Regions from separate parts of the Homo sapiens genome. Here regions 2, 3, 4, 5 and 6 are each reported to be linked to region 1. Evidence: microRNA targets listed by miRTarBase, many of them from high-throughput screens and not tested one by one. Region 1 holds a microRNA gene; each other region holds the end of a gene's coding sequence.
Evidence for each region. Region 1 holds the annotated microRNA hsa-miR-106b-5p (UAAAGUGCUGACAGUGCAGAU, at 2,812-2,832, opposite strand). A microRNA usually pairs through its seed, bases 2 to 8, with sites in the 3' UTR of a target mRNA and lowers its output. Matches are read on the target gene's strand: a 7mer-m8 pairs with bases 2 to 8, a 7mer-A1 pairs with bases 2 to 7 and ends in A, and an 8mer does both.

Region 2: the mRNA of ZNF514 is a reported target of hsa-miR-106b-5p. Seed matches in the 3' UTR shown: 7mer-m8 at 1,985-1,991, 7mer-A1 at 2,501-2,507, 7mer-A1 at 3,107-3,113 and 7mer-A1 at 3,647-3,653.
Region 3: miRTarBase lists UGP2 as a target of hsa-miR-106b-5p. The part of its 3' UTR that is shown has no 7-base or 8-base seed match.
Region 4: miRTarBase lists WDR33 as a target of hsa-miR-106b-5p. The part of its 3' UTR that is shown has no 7-base or 8-base seed match.
Region 5: miRTarBase lists ZBTB33 as a target of hsa-miR-106b-5p. Seed matches in the 3' UTR shown: 8mer at 3,250-3,257 and 7mer-A1 at 2,953-2,959.
Region 6: miRTarBase lists FAM199X as a target of hsa-miR-106b-5p. The part of its 3' UTR that is shown has no 7-base or 8-base seed match.

Annotation. Positions count from the first base shown.
Region 1 is chr7:100,091,232-100,095,311 of GRCh38, forward strand. MIR106B (microRNA 106b) reads right to left here and starts at 2,843; the gene lies at 2,762-2,843. It overlaps COPS6 (COP9 signalosome subunit 6), which reads left to right. Exons shown (of 10, transcript NM_006833.5): 8 at 7-99; 9 at 189-289; 10 at 418-956. The coding sequence ends at 558. MCM7 (minichromosome maintenance complex component 7) reads right to left here. Exons shown (of 15, transcript NM_005916.5): 13 at 2,942-3,110; 14 at 2,061-2,170; 15 at 1,497-1,902. The coding sequence ends at 1,701. MIR25 (microRNA 25) reads right to left here and starts at 2,412; the gene lies at 2,329-2,412. It also overlaps MIR93. RefSeq lists an enhancer at 195-489.
Region 2 is chr2:95,145,800-95,149,889 of GRCh38, reverse strand. ZNF514 (zinc finger protein 514) reads left to right here. Exons shown (of 5, transcript NM_032788.3): 5 at 1-4,090. The coding sequence ends at 608. Among named protein-coding and RNA genes, the nearest start is that of ZNF514, 12 kb to the left of the region's middle.
Region 3 is chr2:63,890,933-63,895,012 of GRCh38, reverse strand. UGP2 (UDP-glucose pyrophosphorylase 2) reads right to left here. Exons shown (of 10, transcript NM_006759.4): 10 at 3,453-3,893. The coding sequence ends at 3,786. VPS54 (VPS54 subunit of GARP complex) reads left to right here. Exons shown (of 23, transcript NM_016516.3): 23 at 1,478-2,863. The coding sequence ends at 1,583. Among named protein-coding and RNA genes, the nearest start is that of UGP2, 51 kb to the right of the region's middle.
Region 4 is chr2:127,702,827-127,706,916 of GRCh38, reverse strand. WDR33 (WD repeat domain 33) reads left to right here. Exons shown (of 22, transcript NM_018383.5): 22 at 365-4,090. The coding sequence ends at 594. SFT2D3 (SFT2 domain containing 3) reads right to left here. Exons shown (of 1, transcript NM_032740.4): 1 at 1,675-4,090. Among named protein-coding and RNA genes, the nearest start is that of SFT2D3, 3.4 kb to the right of the region's middle.
Region 5 is chrX:120,254,967-120,259,056 of GRCh38, reverse strand. ZBTB33 (zinc finger and BTB domain containing 33) reads right to left here. Exons shown (of 3, transcript NM_001184742.2): 3 at 659-4,090. The coding sequence ends at 3,623. TMEM255A (transmembrane protein 255A) reads left to right here. Exons shown (of 9, transcript NM_001104544.3): 9 at 1-407. Among named protein-coding and RNA genes, the nearest start is that of ZBTB33, 6.2 kb to the right of the region's middle.
Region 6 is chrX:104,189,110-104,193,199 of GRCh38, reverse strand. FAM199X (family with sequence similarity 199, X-linked) reads right to left here. Exons shown (of 6, transcript NM_207318.4): 6 at 1-3,592. The coding sequence ends at 3,422. Among named protein-coding and RNA genes, the nearest start is that of FAM199X, 25 kb to the right of the region's middle.

The sequences.
Region 1 (4,080 bases):
TTGCAGTGGCTGAACACCTGATAGCACAGCACAGCGCCATCAAGATGCTGCACAGCCGCGTCAAGCTCATCTTGGAGTACGTCAAGGCCTCTGAAGCGGGTAGGACAGGGGCTTCCCTGGCATTCTTCCTCTCCCTCCTGGGGAAGTGACAGCATCCAAACTAATGTAGTCTCTTTTTGTGCCTTTAGGAGAGGTCCCCTTTAATCATGAGATCCTGCGGGAGGCCTATGCTCTGTGTCACTGTCTCCCGGTGCTCAGCACAGACAAGTTCAAGACAGATTTTTATGATGTGAGTGTAAAACCCGGATGGGGAGGCGGGGCTTATGCTGTCACTTTCACGTGCAGGACTGGGGACTGTTGTTCCCCGGGCATGCCACGAGGGATCCCGAGGAACTGGTCCTTTCTGTTCCCTCCCAGCAATGCAACGACGTGGGGCTCATGGCCTACCTCGGCACCATCACCAAAACGTGCAACACCATGAACCAGTTTGTGAACAAGTTCAATGTCCTCTACGACCGACAAGGCATCGGCAGGAGAATGCGCGGGCTCTTTTTCTGATGAGGGTACTTGAAGGGCTGATGGACAGGGGTCAGGCAACTATCCCAAAGGGGAGGGCACTACACTTCCTTGAGAGAAACCGCTGTCATTAATAAAAGGGGAGCAGCCCCTGAGCACCCCTGCTGGTGGCTCTGTCCTCTGTTAGGCACCACACTGGTTGGTCAACTTGGATGTTCATCGAGGCTCATTCTGGCCTTGCTCAGAAGCCCTTCTGATGCTCTTCAGTGAGGGAGGCACTACCATTTGAAGTGACCCCATGTCAGTCACATGGACTGGTCTTTAGCAAAGTCCAAGGCTGCCTGCTTCCACCTAAGTGGTCTCTGTTCTACACTTTAATGTCACCCTCTACATCATCTTACCTAGCCCACCCAACCTTATAAACATGATAATTGACTACTTTCCTGAGCTAAATTAACTTGTTTTTCACATACGCAAAAAAGAAGGGATAGTAAGCAGATTTTTATTAGAAAGAAGTCCAAGCCTTGATCCTGTGGGCACTGTGAATTACCAGGAGGGAGAGTTTCTCAATGACCGTTTACTACATATTTTGGAGAGGCAGCTAGGAAGTGGTCTAAAGGTTGGGATTGCTGTATGTGATCACTTGTGCTGATTTTCATCACCCGCTAACCAGAGCTTTAGAGTGGGAGTTGGGAACTAAGTAATGACCTGTCTGCTAGAAAAGGGGAAAAACCAAGAGACCCTGCATTTCATACTGGCGCCATATCCCCAGAGCCTGACTTGCACACAGGCAGTATAAGACCAAATAAGGGAGTCGGGGGGCTCAAAAAGTGGAGCCCCATCTTAAGTATCTCCAAACAGCAGGGACCGCTTAGTCCTTGCCGCATCCCCAGTGTCTATACTGGGGGCCTGGCAGGGAGATGCACTTTACTCAGGTAATTTACTGAGTGGATGAAATAGCATAAAAACGAACAGGAATCTAAAAAACGCACAAAACCCTGTTTTAATGGAAGTCAGGCCCAGGCTAGAAGATGACAATCTACAAACACTTTTATTAGCAAAAGGAGTAAGTGCAGCATGGGAGAAAGAGGGGCTCCTCCTTCCCCTCAAAGGCATCACTGCCCCTTCCCAAGGGGCAGGCCAGCAGGGAACAAGAGGACCCCAGGGTTGCAAGCAGGCTGGAATCAGACAAAAGTGATCCGTGTCCGGGAAGCATTGACCTGCCAGACATTGAGCTCCTCATATTCATCCAGAGCCGCCTGGAACTGGGCGGGTGTGAAGCCACGAGATACACAGCGCTGCTCTGCCTCAGAGAACCGGACACTTCGGCCCCCTGAGACCAGTTCACGGACGGTGGCAAATATCACATCTGCTGGTCTCTGAGTCCTGAAGGAAATGAGTGGGTGTGTAAGGTCAGGATACAAACAGGAATGCTCGACATCAACAGAGAACAATGGTGGCCAGTGTTAGAATTGAGGCCAACCTCAGACACATGGCCACAGAAGACAAAGTGACACAGCTTTGTCCTTCACTAAACCACTCACCTAGCTGTCTGCCCCTTGTCTCCTAGAAGAGAGTCCTTTGACATCTCCATTAGCCTGATGGCTTCATTCACATCTTCTTTCTCCACCACATCCACCATTCTCAGACGTGCCTAAGGGGAAGGTAGGGGGGAAAGATGGGAACGGGAGGAGGGCAGTGGAACGAGGTCAGGGGACACCCTTGTTCTGGCTTTAAGGCTGGGCAGCCCATGGGTCGCCTACTCACAAAACAGGAGTGGAATCCCCCCTCCCCCCAGCATCCGCAGTGTTGGGCCGGCACTGTCAGACCGAGACAAGTGCAATGCCCAGGGCAGCGTCCAGCAATTGCCCAAGTCTCCGCCTCTCAACACTGGCCAGTCCCGGAGTTCAGCTGTCCTGTGAGGGAGACCAGACCCTTTTGAACGCCACTGGGCTCCCCAGCATGACAGATGGAGCTTGGGGAGCTCAGCCAAGAAGACAATTGGCAGAGAGAACGTGTCCCGGGGGCTCGGGAAGTGCTAGCTCAGCAGTAGGTTGGGTAATCACACTACCTGCACGAACAGCACTTTGGAGCCCCCAGGACTGAGGTCCAAGACGGGAGGACAGAAAGGAAGGTCTGTAGCACAGGATCTAGGACACATGGAGTGAAACAGACCCCAACCACCCTCTCAGTGAAGGTTAAGAAGTGGGGAAAAGGCCTTTCCCTCCACGGACGCTGTGCGTGCCCTGCTGGAGCAGCAAGTACCCACAGTGCGGTAGCACGGAGAGGACCACTATCTGCACTGTCAGCACTTTAGCCCCGGCAGGGCTGGAGCGGGAGGTGGGGAGGCGGCAATGAGAGCACGGTAAGGAGCTACCCCTTTAAGGGTCAAAACAGATGGCCCTCCAGCAATTTGGGCACTTACCAGAGCAGTGGAAAGGCGCAGGATAGCCAGCAGGGTCCGGGCAGAAGTATAGGTGGCATCCTTACTAGCCCAAGCCTCTCGCCTCATCTCCACGTATGCTGCTGTGATGTAGTCAGCCAGAGACTCTGGCACCATGGGCTGCTTCTCGCGGCACATGGCTATGTAACGCCTGTGGGGGAAGGTTCATGGGGAAGCAGAAGAGGGAGATGGGGAAGGGAGTGAATATGAGCCCATGTTGTTTTCTGTACCAGGGCTCCCCATTTAACATGGTCCCCTCCAAGAATTTTAAGTGGAAAACACAAATTAGTGGGTGATTATTTGCTTGGCTTGAATATCACTGATGGATTTCACCAAACGTATAGCCCCCACCAGTATCCTCCAAGTTATTTCCTATTTTTTTCGGGAAAATGGCCTTTGTAAGACAAATCCGTCTGTCATTAAGAGAGGATCCAGACCCCTCCTCTGAGCGCATGACATGGCAAAACATATATTTTATTTAAAGAGAACTGTTTACAGAATATTTAAAAGGGAGTAAAAACCGGAAAGAACACTGGAGGCTCATGGGAAAATAGCGATAGAGATTATCATCCAGAATGCCTGGGAGCAGGTGTTTTAAACTTTAAATTTTGGAGTATTTGCATATGCATGAGATAGCTTGGGGATGGGACTCCAGTCTAAACATGAAATTCACCTGTATTTCATATACAACTGATACACATAACCTGAAGGTAATTTTATTAAAAATATTTTTGTGGGCCAGGAGCAGTGGTTCATGCCTGTAATCCCAGCACTTTGGGAGGCAGAGGTGGGCATCCTGGCCAACATGGTGAAACTGCTCTCTACTAAAATACAAAAAATTAACCAGGCGTGGTGGCGTGCGCCTGTAATCCCAGCTACTCAGGAGGCTGAGGCAGGAGAATCGCTTGAATCTGGGAGGCAGAGGTTGCAGAGAGCTGAGATCACTACACTCCAGCCTGGGTGACAGAGCAAGACTTCGTCTCAAAAAAAATAAATAGTGTAGGAAACAAAATTTCCTGTGTCCCTATGATATGAAGTGTGGAATTTTCCACTTAAAAGCTGATCTGAGGCTCTGGACATGTCTGTAGCGGGAAGTGGTGGTGTGAAAAACACACACCCTA
Region 2 (4,090 bases), not on the chromosome of region 1:
CAGAAAAGAAATCTTGTAAATGTAATGAGTGTGGGAAGTCCTTTCACTTCCAGTCAGAACTTAGGCGCCATCAGCGATGTCACACTGGAGAAAAGCCGTATGAATGCAGTGACTGTGGAAGAGCCTTTGGTCATATTTCATCCCTTATTAAACATCAAAGAACTCATACTGGAGAAAAGCCCTATGAATGCAGTGAATGTGGGAGAGCCTTCAGCCAGAGTTCGTCTCTTGTTCTGCACTATAGATTTCACACTGGAGAGAAACCCTACAAATGTAATGAATGTGGACGAGCCTTTGGTCACACTTCATCCCTTATTAAGCATCAGAGGACTCATACTGGAGAAAAGCCCTATGAATGCCGGGAATGTGGGAGAACCTTCAGCCAGAGCTCATCACTCATTGTGCATTACAGATTTCATACTGGAGAGAAACCTTACAAATGTAATAAATGTGGGAGAGCCTTCAGCCAGAGTTCATCTCTCACTCAACATTACAGATTTCACACTGGAGAGAAACCCTACAAATGTAATGAGTGTGGAAGGGCCTTTGCTCATACTGCATCCCTTATTAAACATCAGAGAAGTCATGCTGGAAAAAAAACCCTATAAATTCAGTGAATATAGAAGGGCTTTCAGCTGGAGTGCAGACATCACTGGAACTTAAAGAATTCATATCAGAGAGAGATCCTAAAGGTGTAATGTATGTGGGAAGACCACATCTTGTTCCACATCAGGCAATAATTACTAAAGAGAATCCCTGTCAATGTCAAGAGGGGGTGGGCTTCCCCTCTCTTACCAAACATGGGAGAATCCATACTAGTGAGAAACCACGTGAATGTAATGAATGTGGGAACGCTTTGATCAGAGGATGCATATTATTCAGCATCAGACAGCCGACACTGGGGAGGAGCCTTATCAATGCAGTGAGTGTGGCAAGCCTTCAGTTACATACTGATTCTTTAAGAAAATCAGATAACTTGTACTGGAGAGAAATCCTACAAGTGTGGTAAGTATGGAAAAATCTTCAGTTGTATCTCTTCCTTTACTAAGCATCAAGAACACATACTAGAGAGAGGCCCTATGAAAGCAGGAAATAGAGGAAGGCCTTCAGTCAGGGCTCATCCCTTATTAAGCATCAGAAAATTCATACCTGAGAAAAACCTGTGAATGTGGGTAATGTGGGAGAGCCTTCAGCCAAACCTCATTGCTTTATAAACCCCTTAGAACTCTCCCTACTAGCTGGAAACTCTGGTGACGTGATGAATGTGGGAAGGGCTTTGGTGGATGTTCCACCAAAACACGTTAGAGAATTTGTACATTAGAGAATTTGTGCTAGAGCAACTCTTCAAATTTAGTGAAACTGGGAAAACCCATTAGTAGAGTTCAAGCTTCAGTATTCATCTCAAAGAGAAACCTTGGGAACATGATGAATGTGAGGAAAGTTCCTTTCCAACTTGAGATGTATAAAACTAGAGCTGAAAAGAAGCTGAGAAATCACCTTGTCTGGTGATTTTCTGCCTGGTGGGGCCATTTGTATAACGACACTTGTGCATTGCCTCCTCATGCTGTTACTGACGGGGCAGGGTGTCATGCATGGGTGCAGAGGATGGAGGCTGAGAAAGGTAGACAGCTACCCATGATCTAGCCCAGTCGTATTTTAGAGCTAATAAAACTGATGTTCAGAAAGTGACATGCCTTGGCCTATAGTCCTAACTGGGCTGGGCCTCTTTCCTGTGGTTCACAGCTGTAGTATGGAGATTAATAGACTGGATCTTTGCAGTACAACACCTCTATGCACTTCTTTCTCTGTAGCACATGTTACCTTTCTTTGTGAGGCAATGGAGTGGTCTAGGATTGAGCAAAAAGCAATTTTTGTTACATCTTTATGCTAATAGATTTGGAATTTTTGAAATGAAATGAAACCTTGTTTAAACATTAAAATTACTAAAATAGGCTGGGCGCGGTGGCTCACGCCTGTAACCTCAGCACTTTGGGAGGCCGAGGCGGACAGATCACGAGGTCAGGAGTTCGAGACCATCCTGGCTAACACAGTGAAACCCTGTCTCTCCTAAAAATACAAAAAAATTAGCCAGGCATGGTGGCGGGCGCCTGTAGTCCCAGCTACTTGGAAGGCTGAGACAGGAGAATGGCGTGAATCGGGGAGGCAGAGCTTGCAGTCAGCCGAGATCACGCCACTGCACTCCAGCCTGGGAGACAGAGTGAGACTCCGTCTCAGAAAAAAAAAAAAAAAACAACTAAAATATGGGTATTATGCACAATCCAGATCTCAAAAACGTGATTCTAAGTGAAAGAAGGCAGATGCCAGAGACCAGGTATTTTCTAGTACCATTTTAGGAAATGTCCAGAAATGGCAGATCTTCAGAAACAAAGTAACTGCAAATGTTACAAGGAATCTTTTTAGGGTGACGAAAATGTTCTAAAACTAGATGGTGGTGATGGTTGAACGATTTGGTAACTTCACTAAAAATCATTGAATTGTTCACTTTATATGGGCAGATTTTATGGTAAATATACCTCAATAAAATCATTTTTCAAAATCAAATTTACACATATACCAACCATTGCTAAACAAGTATTCCTGTTTTGTTTGTTACTTCAAGCCATCTATGCATTTTTGGTATCACTTTTTATTTTCTGTAACAGTTACCCCTACATTTACTGGGTCTCAGAACCTTGTCAGGCTCTGCTTTAAAGTTCCTACCATGTTGGCTCTGTAACTCAGGTGGAGAAGCCTAGACCAGGAGCTGGCGTAGACCAAAGGATACTTGCCTAATAAGGATTAGCTTATACTGAGGAAAATACTTTAAGCATTTAAAGTCCAGATGAGGAAGTTGAGCCCAGAATTCAGGGAACCAGCTCAAAGTGGGCCCATGCAGACAGGCTGGGTCTAAGAGTCCACAAGGTTGGCCAGGGCAGGTAGGATGCACAGGAGGCATCTGGATCTGGAAGTACTTGGACAGCTGAGGTCAAGATCACACAGAAATTTATTCCTGGACAGCCAAGGTTTACAGGAGCAGAAATAGCAAATATTTTCTTGCTCCGTCTCTCCCTTTTTTCCCAGTGCCCTTTTCTGTACCTACCCAGATCACTTTATACCTAGACATCTGTCACAATTTTGTAACTGGTCTTCGTCCAAAATCTGTCTCCTCTTCTCATGTATCCTTGCCATATTAACCATACTTACCAGTTTGAACCCAGTGTCCTGCCCTCCAAAAATCCTTTGCACGGCCTACAAGATAAATCCTCACCCCCCGTGTGTGGTATATAATGCCCTCTTTAGGCTGCTCCAACCTCCTGCTGCTCCTGACAGAAGCCTCCATTGCACACAAATGCTCTCTTGTCATCCCTCAGACATGCCTTTCCACATCTCAGCCTGCAAACCTTTACCTTAGCTGTTCTATCAGCCGGGGGCACCTTCTCTACTTACCTAAAGCCTACATAATCAGTCAGAAACCTGTGTAAATTTCCCTTCCTTGGAGAGGTGTTCTCTTGAAAACTGATATGAAGTCATATCTTACCATTTGTAATCATAAACATATTTGTTTGTGTAAGTTTTTAAAAATGGACAATATCTAGACTTGTGGTAAATCGTATCACTGTCTTGATCTATTTAAATAATTTTTTATCACTTTACCACTTTCTTGTTTCCTGAACCAGATGACAATGGAAAAAGTCAAATGGTAAAATATTTTAAGAGATTTATTCTGAGATAAATATGAGTGACCTGTAGGCACAGTTGACCAGCATTTGCCTTAAAACAGAGACCTTAAGACTAACAAAAACAGACTCTTTGTAGCAATAACAACATGACAGTAAGTCCTGAGAGAAATCAAAGTGTTTTACGCCAAAATAGATTTAAGTCTGATAAGAAACAAGTCTGACACAGCCCCAGGAGATCCTGAGAACATGTGCCCAAGGTGGCTCTTGTCAGGAGCAGCAGCAGGTTGGGGCAGCCTAAAGAGGACATTACCAAACACGGGAGTGAGGATTTATCTTGTAGGAAGTGCAAAGGATTTTTGGAGGGCAGGACACTGGGTTCAAACTGACGAGTATGGTTAACATGGCAAAGG
Region 3 (4,080 bases), not on the chromosome of region 1:
CAAAAAATTGCATTCCAGATGAAGCTAAGTACACCTTTACACCCCATCTGCAGTCCGATTCCCTTTTTCTCCCAGCCTTTAGGTAACATTTCCAGTGAATTTAGTCTACATTCTTTTAGTCTTATTTATTGTACCTAGATTTATGAAAAATATGTAGTGCTGTTTTGTAAATTTACTTATATGGTATATTGCATATATGCAGCTTGCTTTCTACTAGGCATTTTTACTGATTTATCTATGTTGATATATGTTTAGTAGTCTGTTTTTGACTGCTGTACAGTATTCCATCAAACAACCTTTTTTTTTTTTTTGGAGACAGGGTCTCATGGTCACACAGGCTGGAGGGCAGTGGTGTGATCATGGCTCACTGCAGCCTCAACCTCCGTGGCTCAAGCAATCCTCCCACTGCAGACTCCCCAATAACTGCGACTACAGGTGTGTGGCACCACACCCAGCTAATTTTTTTAATTTTTTGTAGAGACGAGGTCTCACTATGTTGCCCAGGCTGGTCTTAAACTCCTGAGCTCAGGTGATCCTCCTGCCTCAGCCTCCCCAAGTGCTGGGATTACAGGTGTGAGCCACTGCTCCTGGCCATGAATCAGCCATAGATAAATTAGACATTTCCCCTAGTGATAAATTGCTAAGTCATTACTTTTTTCCATTATAACCATGCCATACTGAAGATCTTTATACATGTCTAATGGTGTGACCATTTCTTCAGGGCATATACCTATAAGTGAATTGGAGCTAATACACTTTTCATATTGTTAGGTATTGACAGTGGCTGTACCAACTCCCACATTAGTGGAGTAGTTTGTGAGAATTTGTTTCCCACATCTTTTCAACATTTGCTGTTAGATTTCCTAATTGTTGCTAGTCTGATGGGGGATAGTAGTACCTTGTTTTGATTTGCATTTTCCTGACGTTTACCATTTTTTCAGTTTATTGGTTATTCAGGTGTTTTCATCTGTGACTTCTTATGTTCTTTCCTATTTTTCTCTTGGGTTTTTAAAGAAATATCCAGTATCGCTTATATACATGAATACTAGTCTGTATTTAACGCCTTAGATGACACTTAGAAACCTAGCCTGCTTTTCCCTTGAGTTTACTATTTTAGTCAGCACTCCCATACTCTAGTGCTAACCAATCAAAAACATTTTAGTTTAGCCTGTTATTTTCTCTGTATATTAATTCATGCTGTTTCAAGATAAATCTGATTTTCTTGGGCTGAATTTATCATGAAACTGACTCTAACAGCCATTGGTTTATTCATTTTCCAAATATTTATTATTGAAGTACAGCATTAAATGGCCTACTTATTCATAGCAGGAATCCTGCTAAGTAAAGTATTTGGACACTTGGGCACTAAGAAATCTGAATTTTAGATAATAGGACTCTGACTCGGTGAGCACTGTTACTTTAATTATCTGAATAGAAAGTTTGAGATTTAAAAAATAATTTTCTCTCCATTATTTAGGTTGGTCACAGCAGATGTAGCTTTTTACACTGGAAATCTTCAAGCCTTAAAAGGCCTTAAAGATTTGGACCTAAATATGGCCGAAATTTGGGAGCAGAAGAGGTGATGTCATCCTGGAAAACTGGGTAGTTCATCTGACCATGGGATGTGTTTGTTATGAAGAAAATCTGGATGCCTGTGATTCGAGAATTGAACCTGAAACCCAAAGTGAACTGGGGTGGGGGAAGGGAAAAAGGAAAGTATCAAGTGTTGGGAAACTGGATTCAGTGGGATCTACAAGGAATGTCATTTTTGTGCATCCTACAGTGAGGAGTAACTGATCAGGTGTCTATAACATTTTTCATTCTCTCTGGAAACAGACTCAGGTTTCTTTGGACCAAATCCAAAAGAACACATAGCTGTAACACAGCTGTAGTTGACTAGAATGCTCTGTATACTTTATATTAAAAAATGCTTTGCATTTCTTCCAGTGCAATGAAATTCATATGGTGTCCCACCTTATTTAATGATGGTACAATTTAAAATCTTAGTCAACTTCTGTAGAAAGTTTTCTCTATGAAAGTAAAGCTGTTTGAAAAATTATTATTTTTTTACAGATCTTTCTATAAAAAATAAACATCTTTTGATTGCTTGGATTTAGGAATTCAATTTTTGTTTCAGTGACCAATGTCAAGTTGCAGGCTTTGTGTGTTGCATATTTAATATTTCTACTACCACCGTATGTCAACTGGGTAAAGCCTTCCAGAGCTCTCTAAATACCTGAAAGACTTAAGCCTTTTTTTAAGTAATTAATACTTAAAAAAAAAGATCCTGGCATCTATTTATGCAACTAAATACTTTTCAGAAATGGTATATAAAAGGCTACAGTTTAATATCTGTATTTTTATAAAAGTATGATGAAGGGTTTGGGGTGTTTTTATTTGTAGCAGAGGTAAGAATATGTATTCATATAATCTGCCTACTTTTGAGTTCTCATATTAACATTTAGATAACATATGAAGTATGGCCCCCTTGGATCCTTGTTTTTAAGTTACTTTCGATGTGTATACGAACAAAGACCAGGGAGAAACAGAACTTTTAAAACTATAGGCTGCTGTGTTGGGGCCAGAAATAAGGTGACAAGTAAAGACTTTTATAATACCTACCTTCAAAATTAGAATCAGCAGCACTGTACAAATAAAGTGCCTGTGCTTCACCTCACACCAAGAATCTTGCCTAACCCTGTCAGAGTGCCTAATATCCTGTGGTGATTATGTATAATGAAACAGTCTTATTTTGTGCTCTTTGGTTTCTTAAAAGGAAAGCTTGTTTTCTTTCCTTTATCATTACAGAGGTATGTCTTTGGTTCTTAAACTATCTGTCTAAAATAAAGCTGTAAAAAATTAACAGACTTTAAAAGGCAACTTTTTTTTAAGTGGTATATTGTGAACTTTAAACAAGCAGCCTACTCAAAACAAGTATGGATGAATTTAAAGAAAAGGCATAAATTGAACTACCAGCAGACCTGAATGGAAAGATTATTAATGATCATTTTTTCAGTGATAATAAACAAGCTTCAGGAAATGAAGCTTCAGGGAAAGGGAACTTTTTATGAAGCTATACCCCCTACCTCACTATAGAAGAGTACAAGGATGTGAAGAAATGCCTTCCCTTTGCCCACCCCCGTCAGCTGGGAAAATAAATGCCACTTTGTTTCAATAAATGGAGAGTTTGTGGAAAGCATGGCAGGCATCCCAGTTTTAGAACTAGATGAAAGGTAGGTACTAAAGAAAATACCTTCAGTTTAATTCCTGTGGAAATAATGGTATGATTAAGATTCTTAGAAATGCCAAAAACTGGACTCATTAAGTACACACTGGCTAGGTAACTAGCCAGTGTGTACTTAAAGGGCAAATCTTCCAACTAATATAGTAACTGTCTAACAACAATAAACCAGTTTATAGTTAGCATTATAAAGTACCAGTGTACACAAGTATTGCTTCACTGCTTTATTTTTGAAATCACAAGCAATTCAAAGTGATCATCATTGAGGCTTCTGTTAAAAGTTCTTCCAAAGTTGCCCAGTTTTAAGATTAAACAATATTGCACTTTAAGATGAACTAACTTTTGGGATTCTCTTCAAAGAAGGAAAGTATTGCTCCATCTGTGCTTTTCTTAGACTAAAAGCATACTGCAGAAAACTCTATTTTAAAAATCAACACTGCAGGGTACAGTAACATAGTAAAGTACCTGCCTATTTTAGAATCCTAGAGAACATTTCATTGTAAGAAACTAGCCCATTATTTAAGTGTCCACAGTATTTTTCATTTCAGTGGTCCAAGATGCGAAGGTTTCCAGACACAATCTTGTTCTCTAATACTGCTCCAGGTGGGATATCAATTCTGTCACCATGATTTGCAATGATGATAACCGTTCCCTAAGTGACAGGGAAAACAAAAGAGTGTACTTGCAACTGAAATGCAATTTGATTATCTTACAGTGATCAAGTTTATGTACAACTTTTTTTTTTTTACAGTGAAGTAACTTTTTTTATAAACAATATTAAACATGAAAAACAAATAACAGTTAAGGAAAATTGTAATGTGTCCTTCTGTAACAATCCT
Region 4 (4,090 bases), not on the chromosome of region 1:
CTCAATATACCCTGGTGGCTGGGAGCAGGCAGATACACTTCCCATGGCCTGGGACATGGCCCAGTGTGGCCCGGGTCTCCCTGAAGGTGCTCCTTGCTCATCTCTTGGCTTCCTGTCGTCTGTCACACAGCCCTGGGGGCATGGATCTGGCTGATGCTGAGGCCCATGGCCATGAGCCAGGAAGGGGGAGGCAGGGTCAGGAAAGGGTAGAGGCACACCTCTCAGTACGCTGAATACCACTGCCAGTCTCCCTGGCACCCACCAGAACTGGTCCATTGTCATCAGAGAGTAAAGTTTGTACTGGGAGTTACTGACAAACAGTTGCTAATACAAAAAGTCCCATGTGAAATTTTCTTTGTTTCAGGCCGAGGGGGCCCAGGACCTGCTCAGAGAGTGCCCAAATCTGGGCGTTCCAGCTCCTTAGACGGAGAGCACCACGATGGATACCACAGAGATGAACCTTTTGGGGGCCCTCCAGGCAGTGGCACCCCTTCTCGAGGGGGCCGGAGTGGCAGTAACTGGGGTAGAGGGAGTAACATGAACTCTGGCCCGCCGAGGCGAGGAGCTTCACGGGGTGGTGGAAGGGGTCGGTAGAAGCTGGAACTGAGTACCCTGAGGCCTCTCTGGACAGTATGTAAGAACTTCTTGTGGACTCACCAAGAGAAACAAAAGGAAGCCTGCACCATTGTAGCCCTGAACTCTTTTCTGGGCACCTGAATCCCAGGAACCCTCAATGAGGTCTTCAAGATGAAGAGACTGCTGCCAGCTACCAGCCTGGCTGGCCCTGTCCTGTCCACCCTCATTGCCCCAACTCCCATGTTGTTTTGTGAAGATAAAAGCTGGGATCTTTTTCTTTTTTTTAAGTCTCACAAGACATGGGGCATCTCCACAAATTTAAGTTCCTGTCCATTTGGAAATTTGTTTCTATGTGTACAGTTTGTCAGAGAAAAACAAAGTTTTTGTATGAATACAGAATGTGATTTACGCAAGAATTGACAGAAAACTAGTTGTGAAGTGCTTGCCTTAAGGAAACCTTTGGTTTCCATCGCATCCCATCTGCCAAGGAATGCACGGTTGTTGCTGATGTTCATGAGCATATTAACCACTAGGTTATCTAAATTAATCTCAGCTGTGAACTTTGTGTTTTTCAACACATTCTGTCACACCATTTTTGTGACAGAAAAATACTTGAAAATTATTCTAATGTAGTTTGTAGTAGGTTCAAATTTTTATTCAGACATGCTCTGACAGATGGAAAATTGTACTCTGAAGAGAAAATGCAATCTTCTGGATGTCCAACGAGGGAGCTTCCCCTTGGAAGCATCTCCTAAGAATCACAGTTTAGGTTTGAATCGCCTTGTTATGATGAGGAGAGGAACTTGATGTTAGTCAGAAATAAAGTCACATGCCCTTTAGATAACTTGAAATCACACATGGAGTTGATAAGGAATGGACCAAAATAGGTCCTCAAACAATTTTGCAACACTTAATTAAGTTTTCCTCTCTTCCTCTTCCATACTATGTGGAAATACCAGTGTTACGGCAGGGCGTACTTCTAACTCACAGTAAGCCAGATAGATCTTGTCCATGGCAAATTCCTTGTTTAAAATAAACATACCATTTAGCCCAGTTTGGATTGGAAGCCAAAAATTCAGTTTGTTATATACCCCATGATACTTTCTATACTGACCTTTATTTTGGTTTTACATGGAAGCTTTTATTAAAAGGACTGTCCTATGGCCACCTTAACATTTCATTACATTGGCAGCTTCAGTTTTGGCATCAGTCAAATTTATTTGGCAAATTTAGTGGTGCTGGAAGTTTCTTTTTTTCTTTTCCTTTTTTGACAGAGTCTTGCTCTGTCACCCAGCCAGGAGTGCAGTGGTGCAATCACGGCTCACTTCAGCTTTGACCCTGCCTCAGCCTCCCTAGTAGCTAGGACTACAGGCATATGCCACCATGCCCAGCTAATTTTTTGTGTGTGTGTTTTTTGTAGAGATGGAGTTTCACCACTTTGTCTATGCTGGTTTCAAACTCCTGGGCTCAAGCGGTCCACCTGCTGTGGCCTCCCAAAGTGCTGGGATTGCAGATCTGAGCCACAGTACCTGGCCGCTGGTGCTGGAAGTTTCAATGGTTGCTTAGAAAAGGCATACTGATATAGTTTAACAGGATATGAAAATTTAACTGGTTCTCTATGAATGTAAAAAACAGCAAAAGCTAATTGATTTCTGTGGAGTGAGAAAATGTCAGCCATATACACTGCTTTTCAGTGTTAGAATCTAGAGACTATTTTTTTTTTAACTTTGAAATTACAGCTTATTTAATCAGCGCTCCACCATAAACATGCTATTAGGAGGCTCAAGATTGCTTTAGGTTATGGGTATTTCTTCACTCACCCCCAACTGGTATAGCTTAAAGAGAGAGAAACTGTAATCAAATTTCATGAAGCTAAAACCGGATCCAGAGACCAAACCCATATCAAGATTAGACTTTTTTTCCCTGAGATTCTAGTGGAAAAATTTTCATTATTTTGGGCTTTAACTTTAGAAACATAGTATCTCAGTAAGCAGATAACCAGATCACATTTAAAAATTTTCATTTTACCTTGAAGCTCTACTGGACTTGACAGATCACATTTTGAGAGTGAATTCATTTAAACAATAAACCTCTACATTATACTTATTAAATATATATGGCATTTAAAAACATCACTGTCAGCATACATACTAGATGTTGTGATTTGAAGCTTATAAAAAGTAGATTTTCAATGATGTTTGATTTGAGAAAAAATTTTTGAGACAAGGTCTCGCTGTTGCCTAGGCTGTGGTGCAGTGGTGTGATCACAGTTCACTGCAGCCTCAACCTCCTGGGCTCAAGTGATCTTCCCACCTCAGCCCCACCCCAAGTAGCTGGGATCACAGTTGTGTGCCACCATATCTGGCAAATTTTTTGAAGATTTTCTGTGGCGATGGGGTTTAACTGTGTTGCCCAGGCTGGTCTTGAACTCCTGGCCTCAAGTGATCCTCCCGCCTTGGCCTCCCAAAATGCTGGGATTACAGGTGTGAGCCACCAGCTGAGAAATGTTGAATTTTTAAGTTTTTATTTAAGAAATAAACATTGTAAAACATCATTATAAAACCCCCAACTATTGCAAGTTCTAGAGAAATTTAAAACTAGAACAGAAATTTAGGGGACTAGAAAGAGCAGCCAATGGCACAAGTCTTTACAATTAATTAAAAAAATAAATCATTCTGAAGATACTGCATTTGCTCTCTCACAAGCAGCCTCCTGAGGTAGGTAACCTTGTTTACTGATGGGGAACAAGGCAGTGTTCTTTACCAAATCTCAGGGCGGGTAGCCTGCAAGCCTACAGTGTGGATGTTGGCCACTTGTGTCACTTCTTGGGACGGGGCTTAGGGACCTGACTTACTTAGGAACATAAATTTTGGGGTTGGAGGAAGCAGCAGTGCTCTACTGCGGCACGACAGACACCCTGTTAAGGCAACACTGGGATCCAGCTCAGGAAAAGCATTACTTTCAAATTGTGCAAGCCAATGCACAGAAAAGTGGTCCTCAAACTTGGGGAACGTAGAATCACTTGGGGAGCTTTAAAAAGGTCCTGATGTCTGGGACCTACTTCCCAGGTTCTGACTGCATTGATCTGAGGTGTGGCTCTTCAAGTAACTGATGTGCAGTCAAGCGCGAGGACCACTGGCACACAATGTTTAAATTCTAAATATATTTTACTTCCTAGTGTATTGCTACTGACAAAACGTAGTTTTCTGGACTCATCAGAATGTTAGGCTCATACCTTCTGGCAATAAATTAAGGTAGTTAAAAGTAACTGCTGAACCTAAAATGAAGGCAGCAGCAATTAGATATAAAAAAATCTTAAGATCAGCCTGCAAATTGTAAACTAGTTTACAAAGCAGGCTATACAATGAGGAATAATTCGAGCTTGTAGAAATCCATGGTTTCCACCAGATACAGGTATTCCGGATCTAGAATTATCTTTCTATTTGCAGGATTTCCGAAGAGACCGTTAAGCATCTACGCGCCCCTTCCTGGATCCCATGCTTCTTGGGGCAGG
Region 5 (4,090 bases), not on the chromosome of region 1:
TGTTAAGATTCTATGGCTCATTTCTATGTATTTTTCTTACTTTACAAAATAACCTGAAACAGTATAGATTTTGTAACACTTAATTTGAGCAGCTTTTTTATTACATTGAATTATACAAAGTGCATGTTACCTTAGAAAAATTAATATTTGCTGCTTTACTCTTTTGCAAAACATTTGCTGTAATGAATGGATTTGTATTTCCAATATGTATCTTGACTGCATTTTGTAATATTTACTGCTTTATTCCTAATTCTGCTTTAAAGTACTGAACTGGGCATGAAACATTAAAATATTAATCCAGAAACTGTATAAACTGGATGTTGCTTAAAATCTGTATCACTGCCATGTTGAAAACTCAGACTGCTTTTGTGATGTTTCAAATGAATAAAACTATCCTCCCCTCGTTATCCACTTGTGTCAAGGTAGCTATAAAAGTACAGCAAACGCTCTAAAGCAACTGACAGCAGCTGACTCACTTTTGACTATTAGGGTTCAAGATAAAAGGGGACATTTTTAACCAACATATAAAACCTAGTGGGAAATTTTGCCGTGCTGTCATCAGAAATACAGCCCCAGTCTCCTGCTATAAAAATTGAAAAACAATATAAAAACCCATATAATTTCTGAAAGACAATCTTGTAAAACACGCACTCAAACATCAGAATTAAATCATTTTATTTTTGCCACAAGAAGCTCTAAGAACTAATATCAGGCCATGGTTAATGAAAAGTAGAACTTAAAGTCATGACAGGGAAGATTGTACAAGTGTGAACATTACAGTACTCGGAGGAATGAACAAGGTTTCATATAGTTGACCAGCCAGAAAGCCAGTGCTGTTAAGTTAGCATTTAATTCTTTAGAATATGCATGCCTTGACAATACAAAATACCTTGATCAGTGTTTACCATTTTTTTATCTTTTTGGTACAATGGGGGAAAAATGCGGCATTATTTCTTCATAGTGGTTGTGTGTGGGGGATCGTTACCACCAAAATCATAATAATCATTTAAAGTATATTTTAAAGTTAGTCTCGCAAGATTGTTATGGCATTTTTAAATTTCTGTAGTTTAAGCATTTTCATTTTGTCATATCTTTTAACAAATTACTATTTCAAGTAGTTCCTATCCAGAATATTTACAGGTAATTTAGCATAGGAGCAAATTTGAAGCTAACTTCAAACAAGAAAAGGAAGTTCAATAGCCAGAGAGCTAAGTATAAGATAAAAAAACAATATGGTAATTTTAAACAGCATCTTGCTACAGATTTCCAATCCAATAAATACCAGGAATGAAGGACTTTTGCCCCAAAGAAGTATTTCACATGAATTCTGAACTTTGGATATGGAAACTTATAGAAAAACTGAAGACCCTGAGACACATGCAAGTAAGAGTCTTCTGGCAAAAATACAATTTAATTTTCCAGTTTCTCTCCTCCCAAAAACTCCAGAAGATACCTTTAGTAGGCACAGAGTTTAAATGTCATATTCAGAATTTACAGAGCACAGCAGCAGCAGCAAATAATTACATACCTATTATTCAGAATGGATAGTTTTCCATTATAGAATTAGTTCCTGGTTTGTCATAATAGACTTGTAGAATCTGCCAAGTTTTATTATGACAAACTAATTGACCTAGCAGTTGAGTCTGAAAGATCTGGAAGCTCTGCCGGCATCCGTATCATTCACATCGGTAGAAGTAATTATGTCTAACTGGTGAAATAGCATTAATGAAACTCAAAACAAATTTTCACTGAGTACATTTCAGAGTGCACACTATAGTCAAAGAGTAATGTTATTAATATCTACACAAAAAAGAAACATATGGTGATTCCAGAGATCACAGAGTCTTAAGTTATCAGGTAATTTCAAATTTCCCAGGGGTTAGTTTACAAATGGTTTGAAGGTCTAGACTTACAGAACAGAAAACAGATAAATGCACATCACTCTACCTCTTGGCAAGCAAAGGATTTTTTTTCTTGTATTATTGCATGAACTGATGCCTGATACCCTCAGCTACCAACTTAAGAAACACTGAAACCACTACCTTCAAATCCAGCTTACCATCAGAAGAACGATGTATACATGAGAAATTATGATTAAAGCTTTAAGTTCAAAGTCAAGAAATAGACTATATTTTAAAATACATGGTCAGGAGAAAGAAAATATCTATGTTGGACTAAGAAATACTTAAGCAAGGTTACAAATGACTAATAACTATGCACAACAATCTTTTCCAGTATCAATTTTTTCCTTTGCAAAAAAAAAAAAAATCATTTACAGACGTTCAACAATTCTGTTATAAATGCTAGGCTATATGTATGTTCCAACCTGTTTTCTTTTAGTACTAGCACAGTTTAGTACTAGCACTTCAGTAAGTGTTAACTTTATTTTCTAAGTGTTTAAATATGTGTCATTTTTAAAAGTGGTATTTATTGTTGTCAAGAAAAATGGGAACTGACAAGCCTATATAACATTCCTTATGTAGTTTCTGATTACTATAATATTGCAGCAATTTGCAGATGGAATAAAACTTATTTTAGAAGGGGTAAAAACCTAACAAATCTTGCCGAAAGGAAAATACTAGATCACTGATTCAACTATTTCAAATAAAGACTTCCTAGTGGAGATTCTACGCAATATGAACATTTAAAAATATATGCCAGTAGCCTCCCACCCAAAATATGTAAAGTCTCACCCATGGAATCTATCATTTACAAGGATTTATACATAAAGATACATTTGGTGGCTTTCAGATTCAAAATTTGAAAATTTTCATGTTCATGGGAATATTTTTAACCTTAAGAAGCCAAAAGGAAATCTTCATTCCATTCTCTACTATGTGGTAGCCAGAGAATTAAAAATCCATGCAACAGAACTTTTCATCTCCTCCTATCTGCCATTACAGAGATTGTTTTCATTAGTTTTTTGCCCCCAGAGACCACACTGCGAAGGTATAAAGTGGTCTAGCCACCAAAGTCTTTTACAGACTATGGCAATGAAAGCCAGGATTAATTCTAATTAGCTAAATCTAATTTGTTCTTCAGATGAGAGACTTGTCTGCATGGCTATTTTCATAGAGGGAGGGTAGCAGGAGGTTGCTGTTCGCTTGGACTAGCAGATTACACAACCCAAGTACTGACTTATTCTGACATTTTCCAGAACAACTCTAAAACTTATTTACTCTTTATGCCATATACAAGACAAAACACACATTTATTGTCTCAATGTTAAGAAAATTGAGAATTCAGCAGTAAAGTGCTAACATGGAAGGGGAAAGCTGTAAGATGTACTAGGGTATGCTAATAACTCCAGTTATTTTCAAAGAACATTCAGACTGCTTCAAATTCTATTCAGGAAACTATCTCTCCAAGCTTTTAATTTTTGCCTCTTTTAAATGAGCTGAAAACTAACTATATAAACAGATACTTGGGGAGGGGGTCTCACCTCTACTCAAAACTTTCAGGAAAATTTGCTTCTAAAAATTATCAACAAAAATCCCACTACACTTCCTTCAGATAATGTGGCAGATCAAATTAACTTGTTCGCACCTTAATTTGTTTTACAGATCTTCTGAAACCCCTGCCCCATCATCCAAAACAAAACTTTCTAGTATTTCAAAGGAGTTTAGTAAGACTCTGGTATTATAAATTCAAACTCAGTACTGCCATCTGTTACATTTTGTTTAAAAATTGAATCATTTTCCTGCTGAATAAAAATATCTTCCCAGGTCATTGGCTTGTTCTGAGTAGATGTAGTGGTCCCTACTGGAGGTTCTTTTCCAGTGTCAACCTTATACCCAATACCATCATCCTTCATTGCAGGAATAGTGCTTGATCTATCGGAAAGATATGCATATTGTCTGATTTGTAAAGACCTGCATGGATGTAAACGATAAAGCTTTGAGTCCCCAGAAGGATCTTGACTATGAACTGACTTTATATGTGAAGACATAAACTGATAGTTGATGAAAGATTTGCCACAGGCCAAACACTGATACCTTCGCTCCCCTGTGTGATGAATTTCATGCTTTGTGCGATATTCTGCAAGAGGAAATACCTTCTCACAGTAACGGCACGGATACTTCTTCTCCCA
Region 6 (4,090 bases), not on the chromosome of region 1:
ATGGCTTTGCTTACTGATATCCAATTCCATGGGCATTATGCAAAACAAATTACAACATTTGGATTGTTTTTGAGTTTTGAAAAGCCTGATATTGACAAAAACTAGAGTTCACCACCTTTAAGGCACATGAGGCTATACAGAGTAAGCCACAAACAAAAAGTCTCTGCTGGAGAACCCAGAAACAAACAAGACTTCTATATTGGTTGTGTACTAATATTTCTGGCTAAAATATGAAGACATTTGCTATATTTTATAATTTTTAAAGCTCATCAGAATCTGGATACCGCTATAGTTTCCTATAATTTTTCCTTTATGAGAGGATTTAGCACTTTTAAAAGCTAAATAAAATGAGAAGTTCACCCAATCTATAATGAGTCATTATTTTATAGGTCAGTTTCTGAGATTAATTCACCAATATCTAATTCACTCAAGGGACAGAGGAACTGGACAAAACTGCCATAGCCTAACAAAAATGAGGTAAGTCTCATGAAAAAAAAGTGTTATTTTATTCTAAGTTCTTGTTGGGAGAGAATGAACTAGCCCTTTATACCTCACTACACATTATAATACATCACCTTCCTTTAATTCAGTTGCAAAACTATAGAAAAATATTATATATGTCATTTTGTTAAATGCAAGTCTCATCCTTTAGAAAGCTGTAGTAGGAACTGAGATACTACTATAAGATCTCTAATAAAATGTTTCTGGATAAATCTGTGGGAAATGTATTACGCCCTCAGTTAACAAGGCTTATTTTCAAAGGGGAGACTTAAAATTTGCTCCAATGTCAGTTCTCTACAGATGAGAACCAATACTACAGCAAGTAAGTCTTGCCTTTTTATTAATTAATTGGTTAGTTAGGATTTGTATTTAAAAATAAATATTACTGAGTTGGATTGTTTTAAATTGAACTCAGAGATACACCATATTGAATAAATTATTACTTATTCCAAGAAAGAAATAGTTCAAACTTTGAATTATCTACACAAGACATTAAAACGGAAAAAATGTACAGCACATGAACAGACACCAAAGAGCTTTTTATGTCTTTCTCTGCTAGTTTCTTTTTTGGGGGGACAGAGGACTATCTAATCTCCCTCTTCAATCACAAGCAAGCCCAAGTTAGTTAATTATTTTCTTTTAATCAAAGGAAATATTTTCAATCTCCTTCAACCCAACTTTATGGACTATCTCTAATTTATAGTACTATAATGACAGTTCATCTGGATTTACACAAAATTTCATGATGCACTTCTATAAACATTCAAACCTTTACAAACGTTAAAAATCAACTTTGTGGCACTTTGGTAAACTTGCTTAATAGTGACTCAAGTTAAATTGAAAGTAATAAGACTATGTGATTATTGGGAGAGTAGGGGAATTGGTCTTAAATTATATCATGACCTTGTTTAGGGTTTTTTACTGATGACCGTTAAGTAAATAGTTTCCAAGTATTTGACAGATAAATGGTGCTCTATGGTCTCCAAAAGTGGCCTGTTTTCCTTGAAGAATAGGTAAAGACAGCAGGCAATCATTCTGTGGGATTTTGCTTTTGCTAAGAGCAGGTAGAGAATTTAGATACAGTTACTATGCTCTATTTGCTCTTCCTATACTTGGAAGGGAAAACAGTGAGGTTAAGTTGTTCCACCTCCACAGAGTATTCTGGTGTCTATCCCTAAGCTCTCTTTGGGTCCTCTAAGCTGGTTAGGAGAACCAAAGAGGGGAAGGGGGAAAGTAAGAAAGACTACTCCAATTGAAAACCATAGACACATATGTTTTATTTTAGTAAAAATTTCAAATTATGACTTTAGTAGTCTTTAAAAGGTTACAACCATATCACAGACCTTGGCAAAGCTGCAGTGTATTAATTTTTATCCCCAGTTTCCATTCTTTAACCTTCAAGGAACGAAAATGAAATCAAAATTTTAAAACACATGATTATAAGCCTTTGTATCAACTGAGAATTAAGAATTTAAGTCATGAATCTTTTTCTTAATAAGCTACTTGACGTAACAAAAAGTAAAAAAAAAAGAAATCTTACTAACCTCTGTACTCTTAGAGTTTGAAAAATATTGATTACAGCTCTTCCTACAGAATCACGGTCACCTTCAAAATGCTATCCACAATATAAAGAAAATTATGAAAGTCAGAAAGCAGCTTGATTGTCAGTAGTATCAGTTTCCATCTTCTTTAACCCATGTGAATGTTCAAGACATGTGGTAGAAGAAAAGGAATAATGCTATTTCTAATGTTCATGATAACAAACACTCTAGGAAAACATTTAAAGAAACTCCATGATTTCACAGTTAAAATTAGAGCTCTATTAATAACCAACAAGCTAAGGTGTTTTCTATATCTCATTGCTCTGTATATTTCTAGCAATTTATAGAGAAGTTTAGCAGATCTACAAGGGTTTTCATCAGTTAATTTTCAACATTAACTAGGTCACATGCCAGAAGCTGTTATACCAAATATTTAAAAATTAGAGCTGTGCTGAAAAAAAAATGACCTACAATAAGAACTTGAGAGAGATATAGACTGACTTCCTGCCTGAGACAATTTTACAGCCTAAAAATTCTGAAAGCAACAGAAAAGCAGAATTGCTTATTTTGCCTAATTACTTTCACCATTTAAATATTAATCAACATAGCATCAAGTCTAAAATTCAGCTACTAGTAACATTATTTCATCAGTAGTCATCACTTAAAAAAGGATTCTGAACTTACATAAAGTAAAAAACAAAAATAAATCTAATAGGAAAAAGATAAGGGCCTGTTCTAATACCTTTGAGTCAATAATGAATGAAAACAGACAGAACTAAAACTAATGAAGGCACTATCGTAAACAGCAATCCACACCTTGCCCACCCCCACACCTCAGAAAAGATTTCCACCAGGAATCAAGAATTATGCTATGGCCCTTTAGGAAAAGTAAACTAAGAAATTGTAACATTAAGAAGGGAACTAAATTATGATCTCTACACATGTATGTATACTGACATAATAAACTACTGTCAGCAGTACCTTGAAATCTTCTAAACTGTGTAAGTACTAGTCTTTGAAGACGCCCACTTCACCGCCATAAACTTTAAACAGTCAAAACGTTTACCCAAAGTAGTGGTTCTTAAACTAGACTGTGCATCAGAATAACCCAGCACTTGTTAAAAAAACAATGCTAGGCGCCTCCCTGTTGGTTTCTGATTCACTATGTCTGGGGGCGGGGCCCACTAGTATGCATTCCTAACAACTTCTCAAGTGATGCTGAAGCTGCAGGTCTTGGGATCACCTGCCAAGAACCACTGGCTTAAATTATTAATGGTACATCAGCACAGCCCTAACCAAAATTTTGGTCAAGATGCATGTAAACCCATAAGGATGGAGTATTTTAATGCTCACAAAGAACGTTGATAAATTCACCCTTATTACATCAAAACATCAACATCTGCTTCATGGTCTTCCTCAGTCACTTTCAAGGACAGCACCTCTTCGTTAAGGAAGAGCCCACTGAGCCTCTCCTTCCGGGCCTGCCTCTGCTCCTTCAGCTGCCTCTTGCGGAAGGCCTTCTGCTGTAACTTCCGCTGCTTGGATCGCTTCTGTCAAAATAAAAATTTCTAAATCAGTTTGGTTTAGTTTTTGGCATATCCACCCCAAAATGTTTTGTGGATCAAATTCTCTATTTTCTAACTTTAAGAGCTGTTCAAATCCTTCTGTAGTATGATCCTTGTTCCAATAAGTGAGCCACTGGCTTAGGCTTAAAAATGATTAAGATTCCAATTTTGTGGTATTTGACCAGTGACTCTTCTGATTAGGAAGAGTTGAGACGATCATTTTGGCTAGTGATAGATAAAAAGTCACTTCAAAGACTTCTTTTTTAAATTCCATTAAGGTACATTGGTACAAATGCATAATGAACACATAATTAATACTAGGCGACAATACTGAATACACCTGTGGAGAACATTGCCCAAATCTCTAATACTTATGATTCTCAGGTGCCTTTCATCCAAAAACACTAGCAATCTTACAATGGCAGGTAAAAAAAAAATCATGCCTTTTTTGTAGTAGGCGAATACCATCTTAAAAATCCATCA